Regions from separate parts of the Homo sapiens genome. Here region 2 is linked to region 1. The links come from fine-mapping of genetic effects on gene expression. A gene starts in region 1. The other region holds a variant in brackets. All regions are shown on one strand. Distances are from middle to middle. Region 1 holds the start of HNRNPDL (heterogeneous nuclear ribonucleoprotein D like). Region 2 has its middle 24 kb from the start of HNRNPD-DT.

What was found. PIP is the estimated chance that this variant, and not a neighbour inherited with it, causes the effect. A credible set is the group of variants that fine-mapping cannot tell apart.
Region 2: its variant is the best candidate, but not a certain one, in a credible set for the expression of HNRNPDL in monocytes (Fairfax 2014, PIP 0.86).

What each region holds. Positions count from the first base shown.
Region 1 is chr4:82,428,320-82,433,692 of GRCh38, forward strand. HNRNPDL (heterogeneous nuclear ribonucleoprotein D like) reads right to left here and starts at 2,143. Exons shown (of 8, transcript NM_031372.4): 1 at 929-2,143; 2 at 1-127. The coding sequence starts at 1,371. It overlaps ENOPH1 (enolase-phosphatase 1), which reads left to right and starts at 2,271. Exons shown (of 6, transcript NM_021204.5): 1 at 2,271-2,594. The coding sequence starts at 2,511. RefSeq lists silencers at 592-761, 1,072-1,311, 1,682-2,081, 2,202-2,521 and enhancers at 807-1,602, 982-1,041, 1,362-1,451, 1,603-2,398, 2,762-2,861.
Region 2 is chr4:82,395,978-82,401,350 of GRCh38, forward strand. No RefSeq gene overlaps it. Among named protein-coding and RNA genes, the nearest start is that of HNRNPD-DT, 24 kb to the left of the region's middle. The variant G/GA (reference allele first, on the strand shown) is at 2,421.

The DNA of each region.
Region 1 (5,373 bases):
TCCTCTTGATCTCCCAGTGACTGGATCTGTTTTAATTGTGCAGTCTACAACTTCCCCAAATCGAGACAAGTACTCTGTCAGATCTTTTTTGCTTGTATCCCAGCTCAAGCCTCCAATAAACATTTTACTAGAAATAAAAGTGTTTTTAAAAAAAATTAACAATAACTCAAATGATCCTTCAGTTCTGGAATTAAATCGTGAAATAAAAACAGGGACATTTACCCCCTAAGTGTAGGCAATTTAATTCATGTTTACATTTAATCTATGTCACACAAAAATCCCAATATCCCAACGAAGTTACTCAAACCAGCGGACAGCTCACTGTCCGCACTACATAAAGCAAAGCTCAAAAGAGACCAATAAAATACAGTAAAGGTTCTGCCCAGATTCCTTTAGGTAGAAGGCACAACTTCCTAGATGAATCCCTCACATCTTATCTTACTTAGGTCCATCTTCGTTCTCAGCTGTCAAGCCAACGTTCCACCCAGAGAACTCATCAATCATAACACGTTTTGTGAATCTGGGTACCAGTCGCCTGCTTGTGCCCCAACTCAGTCCTCTAAAACTCTTCCCAGGAAAACCGCGCCGAGTGGTAACAGAGACACAATGAAGAGGCGGCGGCAGCTGCAGCGTGCAGCGCTGGGAGGCCGGCCCCTCCCCCCCGGGTCCCACGCGGCGCCTGCGCGCTCGGGACACAGACGCCGCCGCCCTCCTCCTCCAACCCCTCCGCCCTTCCCCCACTCTTCCCGGGTCTCTCCAGTCACCCCCTCGATCTCTTACTTTCCTCTTCCCTCCAATCTAGTGGGGCCCAGAAGGCACGCGGGGAATCGACTCTGAGAAAGAATGGGGGCAGCGCGCGGCTCACGAGGAACGAAGGGCGCGTGCGGCGCGCTGGGGGAGGGGGAGCGGGGGAAGAAGCGTGCGGTACCCGTCATCCTGCTGATTCTTGCTCGCGTTGATCTTGGATCCCTCTGCGAATTCCTCTATATTGCTGTACTCGTTCATATCCTCCATAGTGACGGAGCTGTCGGCAGGGGGGTGCTGGCGCGCAGTCCGGGTCGCGGCAGCAGCGGCGGCGGAGCGTTGTATGGAGCTGGATTTAAAATGGCGGCGGAAGAGATCCGGGCGCCGCCTGCGCCCTCCCTTTATAGCCGCCCCGCCCGCCAATCGGGAGGGCTGCTGGGCGGTGACGTGGCGCTGGGCCCGGCGCGCCCCCTGCCGGGCGGAGCTGGGAGCGAGCGAAGGGAGGAGCGGGGCTAGCTGCCGCGGCGGCCGCGGCCGCCAATGGGAGAGGCTGCGGGAGGCTAAAGTAGCGGGAGCGGAGGGGAACAATGGCGGCGGCACATGGGAAAGCCTGGGCGGGACCTCCATCGCGGCCCTCCCGGCAAGGAGAGAGGCCACGCGTGAGGGGACGCGGGCTTGGGAGAAGAGAAGAATCAGAAGAGAAAAACGAAGGGGCGTAAATTCCTGGGGTCAGCAGTCCCGAGCAGAGCCGACGCAGGGCCACAGTCCCTCTTGCCTTGGGAGCCTTTGTCTCTGGCGTCCGGTCCAGCCCACTCCTACCAAAAAGCCGTCAACCCCGCCTTTTTCTGCCCTCGGTTCGCCAGTGCGGAGCCGCTGCGGCGGCCGCTGCTACCGACTAGCACCGCGGCCAGTCTGCTCCGGAAAAAGGCGGACTGCGCCCGGCGCTGGCGACTGAGGCGGCGAGCGCGCTCGCCCGCCGCGCGCACGCGTGTTTTGTCCTCGAGCTGGCAGGAACCAGCCGAACAGGAAGCGGGCGCGCGACGGCTCCTCCGGGCAGCGCAGCGCGGGCGCCTCTTCCACTGTGACCACGGGCGCGCGGGCCAAGGGGGCGCGGCGGGGCCTCCCGGGCTGATCGGCCGAAGCCCGGGCCCCGCGCGGCCTCTGGCGGGCTGACGCCGGGAGGAGGGGCGGGGGCTGGCCAGATGACTGTATCTATGCAAAGGCGGAGGCGGTGGGCGGGGAGGGGGCTGGATTCAGTAGAGGGCAAGGGGCACTCACATCCCCGGCGCGCCACTCGCGGGGCTCCTTTCTGCACGTGCCCCGGGCCTCTCCCGCTCGCTCAACCTGTCTGCGGAGGGCGCGCTCTCGCGCACCCTGCTCCCGCGTTCGCTTCTTTGTTCCCGCCCACGCGAGGCCCATTTTGACGGATCCAGTTCGAGGCCTGACGGCGGCCAATCGGCGCTGGCGCCTTCACCCTCCCCGCCCCGCCGAACCCGTCAAGGGCCGCCCCTTTTCCTGCCCACGTGGTCTCGGGCTCCTGCCCCGTCCTGCTCACGAGTTCAGGGCTCCTGGGCGGCCGCCTTTTCCAGTTCCAGGTGTGCAGAAGTGTCCTCTCCCCACGCGCGGCGGGCTGCACTTGGTCGCTGGCTCCGAGATCGCGCGGGGCCGCCGGAAGCCCAAGACGGTACCGGGGGCCGCAGCCGCAGCCGGCGCCGCCCTCCGCCCTCCCCAACAGCAGGCCGAGTCCCGTAGCATCCGGTAGGGAAATGGTCGTGCTTTCGGTCCCCGCCGAAGTCACCGTGATCCTGTTAGATATCGAAGGTACCACAACCCCGATTGCTTTCGTGAAGGTGAGGGGCGGAAGGGAGCGGGGATGTTACTTTTCCTTAAAAACAGTTATTATTTTTTCTAAGTATTTCAGGCCTTGCATTGGAGACGAGGGTTAGGAGAGGCGGTGTGGCTGCCTCTTGTGTGGAATGGGGAGGAAGGAGAGAAAGCCTGCGGTGGGTTGCGGGGATGCTTTTCCTCGCGACACTAGCTTCTCCCTCCCCCGCCCTTGCGCTTGGTTGGATCCAGATGGGTGGGAAGGGATGGAAGTTGACGCTAAAAATCACCGAAGGGCAGGTAAGCCGGGGCGGGGTGTGACGGTGCGGGCCTCGCCACCCGGCAGGTGTGCACCCGGTCGCTTCCGCAGGTGAGCGCAGCCTTTCTGCTCCGTCGGGCCTGGTGTGGCAGCGGCAGCGATTTAATGGTCCTTAAAGCTTCCGATCTCAAAATGGAAAGACTGAAGTGTCAAGATGACTTTTCAGGTGGCCCTGGTGTCGGGCAATCAAGGTTCCTCTTCGCCCCTTCCCACTCTTGCTGTTAGTGGCCAAACTGCACAGTGTATTATTTTACTCTGTTAGGCGCTGTGGTCCATAGCGCTGATTTTTTGAGCTATAGGACACGTCTAGATTCCGTTCACTTTCCTCAGAAAACCACAGAAGCTTGAAGCTCTTATCCAGAGCATTCCTTCTAGGATGTCACTGTGAACCAGCACTTGTCTGCACCTCAGCTTGCAACTTAGCGGATTCCTTCTTTATTCTTTGTCTGTTAGAATAAGCAAATATGAAATGTTACTTTAATTTTTGAAAGAATTCCTCGGGCCTTGTCTTTTTATTTGGCTCCCTGAGGTTTAAGAATTCATTGCAGATACAAGTACTTCTTAGAGGTGCTTGCATGCACAATAATAGTCGAGATATACAAAGTATATTACCAAGTAGGAAAAATCCATCTTCCAAGAAACTGAGCAGCTTGGGTTTTAAATTCTATTTTAGTTTCCATTTTTAAAAAAAATTATCTGTGAATAAGGCTTTTTTTTTTTTTTCTTTGAGAGTCTCACTCTGTTCCCAGGCTGGAGTGGAGTGGAGTGGTGCAATCACAGCTCACTGCAGCCTCTACCTCCTTGGGCTTAAGGCATCCTCCTGCCCCAGCCTCTCGAGTAGTTGGGACTGAAGGGAGAGCCACCATGCCTGGCTAATTTTTGTATTTTTTGTAGAGACGGGGTTTCGCCATATTGCCCAGGCTAGTCTGGAATTCTTGGCCTCCCAAAGTGCTGAGATTACAGGCATGAGCCAAGGCGCCTGGCCTGAATGAGTTTCTTGATGTAGGTTATAATATAAAATCCATGTACACTTTTAGGACACCAAACATAACAACCTTTAAAATTCTTTTAGAAGAATCACAGTACCTTGACATCTTAGCATAGGTTCAGAAGAAATCGAGTTTAGCATTTTCTCCACGGTTTTTGTTTTTGTTTTGAGGCGGAGTCTCGCTCTGTTGCCCAGGCTGGAGTGCAGTGGTGTGAGCTCAGCTCACTGCAACCTCTGCCTCCCAGCTTCAAGCGATTCTTCTGTCGCAGCCTCTCCAGTAGCTGGGATTACAGACATGTGCCACCACACCCAGCTAATTTTTATATTTTTAGTAGAAGAGGGTTTCACCAGGCTGGTCTCAAACTCCTGACCTCAAGTGATTCACCCACCTCAGCCTCCCAAAGTGCTGGAATTACAGGCGTGAACCATGGCACCCGGCCTCTTCCCCACGTTTTGTTTTGTTTTGTTTTGTTTTGTTTGAGACAGAGTCTTGTTCTGTCTCCCAGGCTGGAATACAGTGGTGCAACCTCTGCTTCCGGGGTTCAAGCGATTCTGGTGCCTCAGCCTTCCGAGTAGCTGAGATTACAGACGCGCACCACCACGCCCGGCTAATTTTTGTATTTTTAGTTGACCAGGCTGGTCTGACCTCAGGTAATCCTCCCGTGTCGGCCTCCCAAAGTGCTGGGATTATAGGCGCGAGCCACCGCGCCTGACCTTCCCCCACGTTTTTAATCACACCAGAGACCTCTGCGGAAAATTTCAGGACAAATACTGATGATTGATTAATTTCCTTTTTTTTTGGATTGTGACAGAGTAACCGCTTTCTTGGTTTTCAGAGAAAAAAGGAGTCCTCATTTTTGTAATTTATAGTTAACAGCTCACTCGTTCCACTCTGGCTCTCTCTTGCTTTCTGCGGTCATCAGGAGACCAAGGATAAGGACAGGAGAGGTAGTGATGTGGCATTAGATCATTAGATACTACCGTTTTCTGAAGGTAGATTTGGGGAGTAAGAAACCTCATACAAAATCAATTTTGCAACAAAACATAATACCCCTCCCCCACCTTTTTCCCCAAGTGTGTCTTCTGCTAGATGACATTATGAGCCACTTCTTGGAATCTTTGTGTCTGTGGCAGACTTATTCTGAAATCCAAAAATAAAAATGTCTTAGTTGCCTAAATAAATTTTTCTGAATTTGACGCTAGGCAATGTGCAATTTCAATGCAGGCTGCAAAAGAATGATTTAGGGATCTTGTTTAAAGGATAATTTCTTGTGCCCTGTCCTATAATAATATCTATTGTTATTAATATTGTTAATCTATTATAATCTAATCTATTATTATAATTTGTTAGACATGAATTTATCAAAACCATTTTTCCTAAAAGTATGTTTAAAAGAAAGTTAGGTCTGTGTGGATGTTTATGGTAATTATGTAAAAAAGGATTCCATTAAATGCACTTTTGGGAAATGCTAGTTAGAATGAGTTCAAATAGATTTCT
Region 2 (5,373 bases), 32 kb before region 1:
ATTTATTTATTTATTTATTTTTGAGATGGAGTCTCGCTCCCTCCCCCAGGCTTGAGTGCAGTGGTGCGATCTCGGCTCACTGCAAGCTCCGCCTCCCGGGTTCACGCCATTCTCCTGCCTCAGCCTCCCGAGTAGCTGGGACTTCAGGCGCCCGCCACCACACCCGGCTAATTTTTTGTATTTTTAGTAGAGACGGGGTTTCACCGTGCTAGCCAGGATGGTCTCGATCTCCTGACCTTGTGATCCGCCCCCTCGGCCTCTCAAAGTGCTGGGATTACAGGCGTGAGCCACCGCGCCCGGCCGGCCGTAAGCAGGCTTTTCTAAGGATAGCAGTCTCCAGCCTGCTGTGTTCATGCTTTTTTTTTCACACCATAGGATAGACTATTATTCAGTGATAAAAAGGAATAAAGTACTGATATGTACTCCAACATGGATGAAGCGGGGAACATCACGTTAAGTGAAAAAGCCAGTAACACAAGGCCACATATTGTATGATTCCATGTATATTAAATGCCCGGAAGCAAACCTATAAAGACGGAACAGACAGTAGTGGTTGCCTAGGGCTGGGACGTCAGAGAGAAATAAGGAGCAATTGCTAATAGGTAAAGAATTTCTTTTTGGGGCTATACAAATGTTCTGAAATTCATTGCAGTAATGGGTACACAGCTTTGTCAATACACTAAAAACCATACAATTTTACTCTTTAAATAAATTAATTGCATGAAATGTGAATTATAGCTCAAAAAAGCTGTTAAAAATAAAGAATGTGGCCGGGTGCGGTGACTCACGCCTGTAATCCCAGCACTTTGAGAGGGCGAGGCGGGTGGATCATGAGGTCAAGAGATTGAGACCATCCTGGCCAACATGATGAAACCCTGTCTCTACTAAAAATACAACAACAACAACAACAACAAAAAATTAGCTGAGTGTGATGGCGCGCGCCTGTAGTCCCAGCTACTCAGGAGGCTGAGGCAGGAGAATTGCTTGAACCCGGGAGGCAGAGGTTGCAGTGAGCCAAGATCACGCCACTGCACTCCAGCCTGGCGACAGAGCGAGACTCCGTCTTTAAATAAGTAAATAAATAAATAAAGGGGCCGGGCGCAGTGTTCATGCCTGTAATCCCAGCACTTTGGGAGGCCAAGGCAGGCAGATTACCTGACGTCAGGAGTTCGAGACTAGCCTGGCCAACACGGCAAAACCCCGCCTCTATCAGAAAATACAAAAATTAGCTGGGCGCGATGTCATGTGCCTGTGGTGCCAGCTACTCAGAGGCTGAGGCAAGAGAATCGCTTGAACCCAGGAGGCAGAGGTCGCAGTGAGCTGAGATCGCGCCACTGCACTCTAGCCTGGGCAACAGAGCGAGACACTGTCCCCACACCCTCCAAAAAACAAAAAAATAAAGAAAGAAAGAAAGAAGAGAAGCAGTTGCTCATTTTAGTATGTGCCTTTTTTTTTTTTTTTTTTTTTGCCTTTAGGAATATAAATTCAAGAATATTTGTAAGCAAAAAGGAAGAATAAAATCCCAAACGAGAATGTAGTTAGCTGAGGTATTATACTTCTTGGGTGAGCTTATAGAAATCTTCAATTGGATTATATAATTTTTATTCATAAAGTTTATATTTCCAAATGTTGAATCAGCTGTTGATTTTAAGCAATGTGTGTCACAACTGCTAATGACAGGAGTCACATCAGTGCTAGAAGAGAAAAAATGCACATATGTATTTGTGCTAATAGTTGTTATGCATGCCTCTATCCTTTTTTCTATACAATATACTGTACTACTAGCTAACATTAAAAGTCCTCCTTTAGAACAAAATATAGTAAATTAATAAGTCCCCAGAGGCCGGGCGTGGTAGCTCATATCTGTAATCCCAGCACTTTGGGAGGCCCAGGCAGGCAGATAACTTGAGCTCAGGAGTTCGAGACCAGCCCAGCCAACATGGGAAAACCCTGTCCCTACTAAAAATACAGAAATTAGGCTGGGCACAGTGGCTCACACTTGTAATCCCAGTACTTTGGGAGGCAGAGGCAGGCAGATCACAAGGTCAGGAGTTTGAGACCAGCCTGACCAACACAATGAAACCCCGTCTCTACTAAAAATACAAAAATTAGCTGGGTGTGGTAGCGGGCACCTGTAATCCCAGCTACTTGGGAGGCTGAGGCAGGAGAATCGCTTGTACCTGGGAGGTAGAGGTTCCAGTGAGCCAAGATCGCGCCTCTGCACTCCAGCCTGGGCAACAGAGCTAGACTCCATCTCAAAAAAAAAAAAATTAGCTGGGCATGGTGGTGGACACCTATAATCCCAGCTACTTGGGAGTTTGAGGTGGGAGAATAGCTTGAACCAGGTAAGCAGAGGTTGTAGTGAGCTGAGATCATGCCACTGCACTCCAGCCTGGGCAACAAACCAAGACGCTGTCTCA[G/GA]AAAAAAAAAAAAAAAAGTCCCCAGAGACTTTAGCCATCTTAGCAGATCACCCTTGTGAACCCAAAAGGAAAGTGGAAATATGAGTTTTGAGTAGGTAAATTGATCTGCTGACATTACCAGCCCAGCATTCTCCAGGCTCTCCATTTCATGAAGAAAGACCTAGCCTTCCCTCTTGATGCTCACAGCAGAACTGCTGGGTAGGTTCTCCTATACACAAACTTCTGGGCATTCTTTTCTTCCCTTTGTTTCAGAAGTACCATTGTATATCCTTCACTGGCTCTGTGCTATATCCAAAGCAGTTTTTTCTGTTTCATTTTCCTGTGAAAAAAATTAAATTCCCGGTTTTTTGTTCTTTCTAACATCCCCCTTCTGCAACAGTCTCTTTATGACCCCAGATTCCCACAGCACTTTTTTTTTAATCCCAGCTATTTCTCCACATATCCAAAAATTATTTCTACCAACTGCTTCCCATTTTCTTAGTGCATGTCTTCCAGCTGTTGGCTTACCAAGAGAGATTTAGATAAACTAAAATACATTAAATATGTATATGATTGATATGCTCTTTAACTTTCTATTTTTAACTAAATTTCTATTTACCTTTTTTTTTTTTTTTTTTTAGACGGACCCTCGCTCTGTCCCCCAGGCTGGAGTGCAGTGGTGCGATCTCTGCTCACTGCAAGCTCCGCCTCCCAGGTTCACGCCATTCTCCTGCCTCAGCCTCCCAAGTAGCTGGGACTACAGGCGCCCGCCACCACGCTTAGCTAATTTTTTGTATTTTTTTAGTAGAGACGGGGTTTCACTGTGTCAGCCAGGATGGTGTCAATCTCCTGAGCTCATGATCTGCCTGCCTCAGCCTCCCAAAGTGTGGGATTATAGGCATGAGCTACCATGCCCGGCTGAGTAATATCTATTTTTAAGTTACTTATTTTTAAAATAAAAATGTCACATTGTAGAAAATTCATAAAATATGGGTTTTTTCCTTTTCTTTTGTCCTTTTTTTTTAATTGCTACTAAAAAGTAGTTCTCACCATTGTTTAAGTTTGAAAAATGCCCACACTTAATTATTTCTTTCTTTCTTTTTCTTTTTTTTTGAGTTGGGGTCGCCCAGGCTGGAGTACAGTGCCATGATCTCCCCATGATCTCCGCTCACTGCAACCTCTGCCTCCTGGGCTCAACCAATTTGCCAACCTCAACCTCCCAAGTAGCTGGGACCACAAGCGTGCACTGCCACACCTGGCTAATTTTTTGTATTTTGTATTTTTCACAGAGATGGGTTTCACTGTGTTGCCCAGGTTGGCCTCAAACTCCTGGGCTCAAGCGATCTGCCCGCCTTGGCCTCCCAAAGTGGCTGGGATTACAGGCATGAGCCACCACTCTAGGCCAAACAATTATTTCAATTATTCTTCCTGAGTAGAAAGTGAATGAGCAAATATTTGTGATACCTAACAGTCATTTCAGGAAGTCTAAAGATATTTGAAGGATAAAAAACATCTTAACATTTTTATTATTCTGAATTTAGGGCCTAATATAAAGGCAGAATGAAGAAGAATTGTCAGAAGATATAAGGTATGAACAGAAATTATAATTTTTAAAATCCAAGACCTCCGGGCACGGTGGCTCACACCGGTAATCCCAGCACTTTGGGAGGCTGAGGCGGGCGGGTCACTTGAGGTCAGGAGCTGGAGACCAGCCTGCCAACAGGGTGAAACCCCGTCTCTACTAAAAATACAAAAATTAGCCGGGTGTGGTGGTGCGCCCAGTGGTGTAATCCCAGCTACTTGGGGGGCCAAGGCAGGAGAATCACTTAAATCCGGGAGGTGGAGGTTGCCGTGAACCCAAATTGTGCCACTGCACAATTTGTGCCTGGTCAACAAAGGGAGACTCCGTCTCAAATTAAAAAAATAAAATTTATCTGGGCATGGCGGCACATGCTGGTAGCTCCAGCTACTGGAGAGGCTGAGGTGGGAGGATGGCTTGAACCTAGGAGGTCAAGGCTGCAGTGAGTGGAGACTGTACCACTGCATTCCAGCCTGGGTGACAGAGCGAGACCCTATCAAAACAAACAAAAACTCCAAAAGACAGTTATAGTTATTATACGTATTTAAAAACCACGTCAGTAGGGAACAGTTATTACTAGGAACTTAACTGAAAAGTGAGGAATTTTTGGTCAAAATTATTCCAGAGTATGCCAAGAAGTCTAGAGAATTAATAGAGTATTTTGGTGTTTCAAAAGGATAGCTGTTATCTGGTCACAGACTAACTTAGTCATTTTCCAAAAAGAAAATCCAAATTCTAATTTGACTTTTTTTATTTTAGAATATCATCCATGCAACAATTTTTAGTCAAGAATTTATCTGTTTTTAATAAATCTACTAACATTGATTTCACCTTAAAATTTTTTAACCATTTATAGATGATTCTTCAATTGATCTTAATATACATTTATATGTGTGTGTTTAGACATATATAATTACATGGCTATGTAAATAAGTTACAAAATTAAAGCTTTTAACTTTAAGATAAAATTAATCCAATCAGTATATTAAATAAATCAATGTATTTATACTTGAAATTATAATGTAAATATATCCAGAATTTATTTAATAAACTATATTATCTTGCATACATATTCATATTTCTCTGTAATTATTATGAGTATAGCCTTTATTGTTTTATTAATTATCACTTTTAGCCAAAGCAACCAACTTTTGTTTTTTGCATGGATGTCTAGAAGACAGTAAACCAAGAAATATCTACCTAATTTTTTTGGTACACATTTTAGACTATCTTCATAAATGTTAAGCTGGCAAAACAAACCAATATATGATATCATTCAAAGCATTTACACAGTTTATTTTTGCTTGTTTGTTTGCTTATTTTATTTTTTTATCAGATCCCCTATTCGGAAAAGCACATTTACACATCCTGTTTATAGTCATTTTATAACGTTAT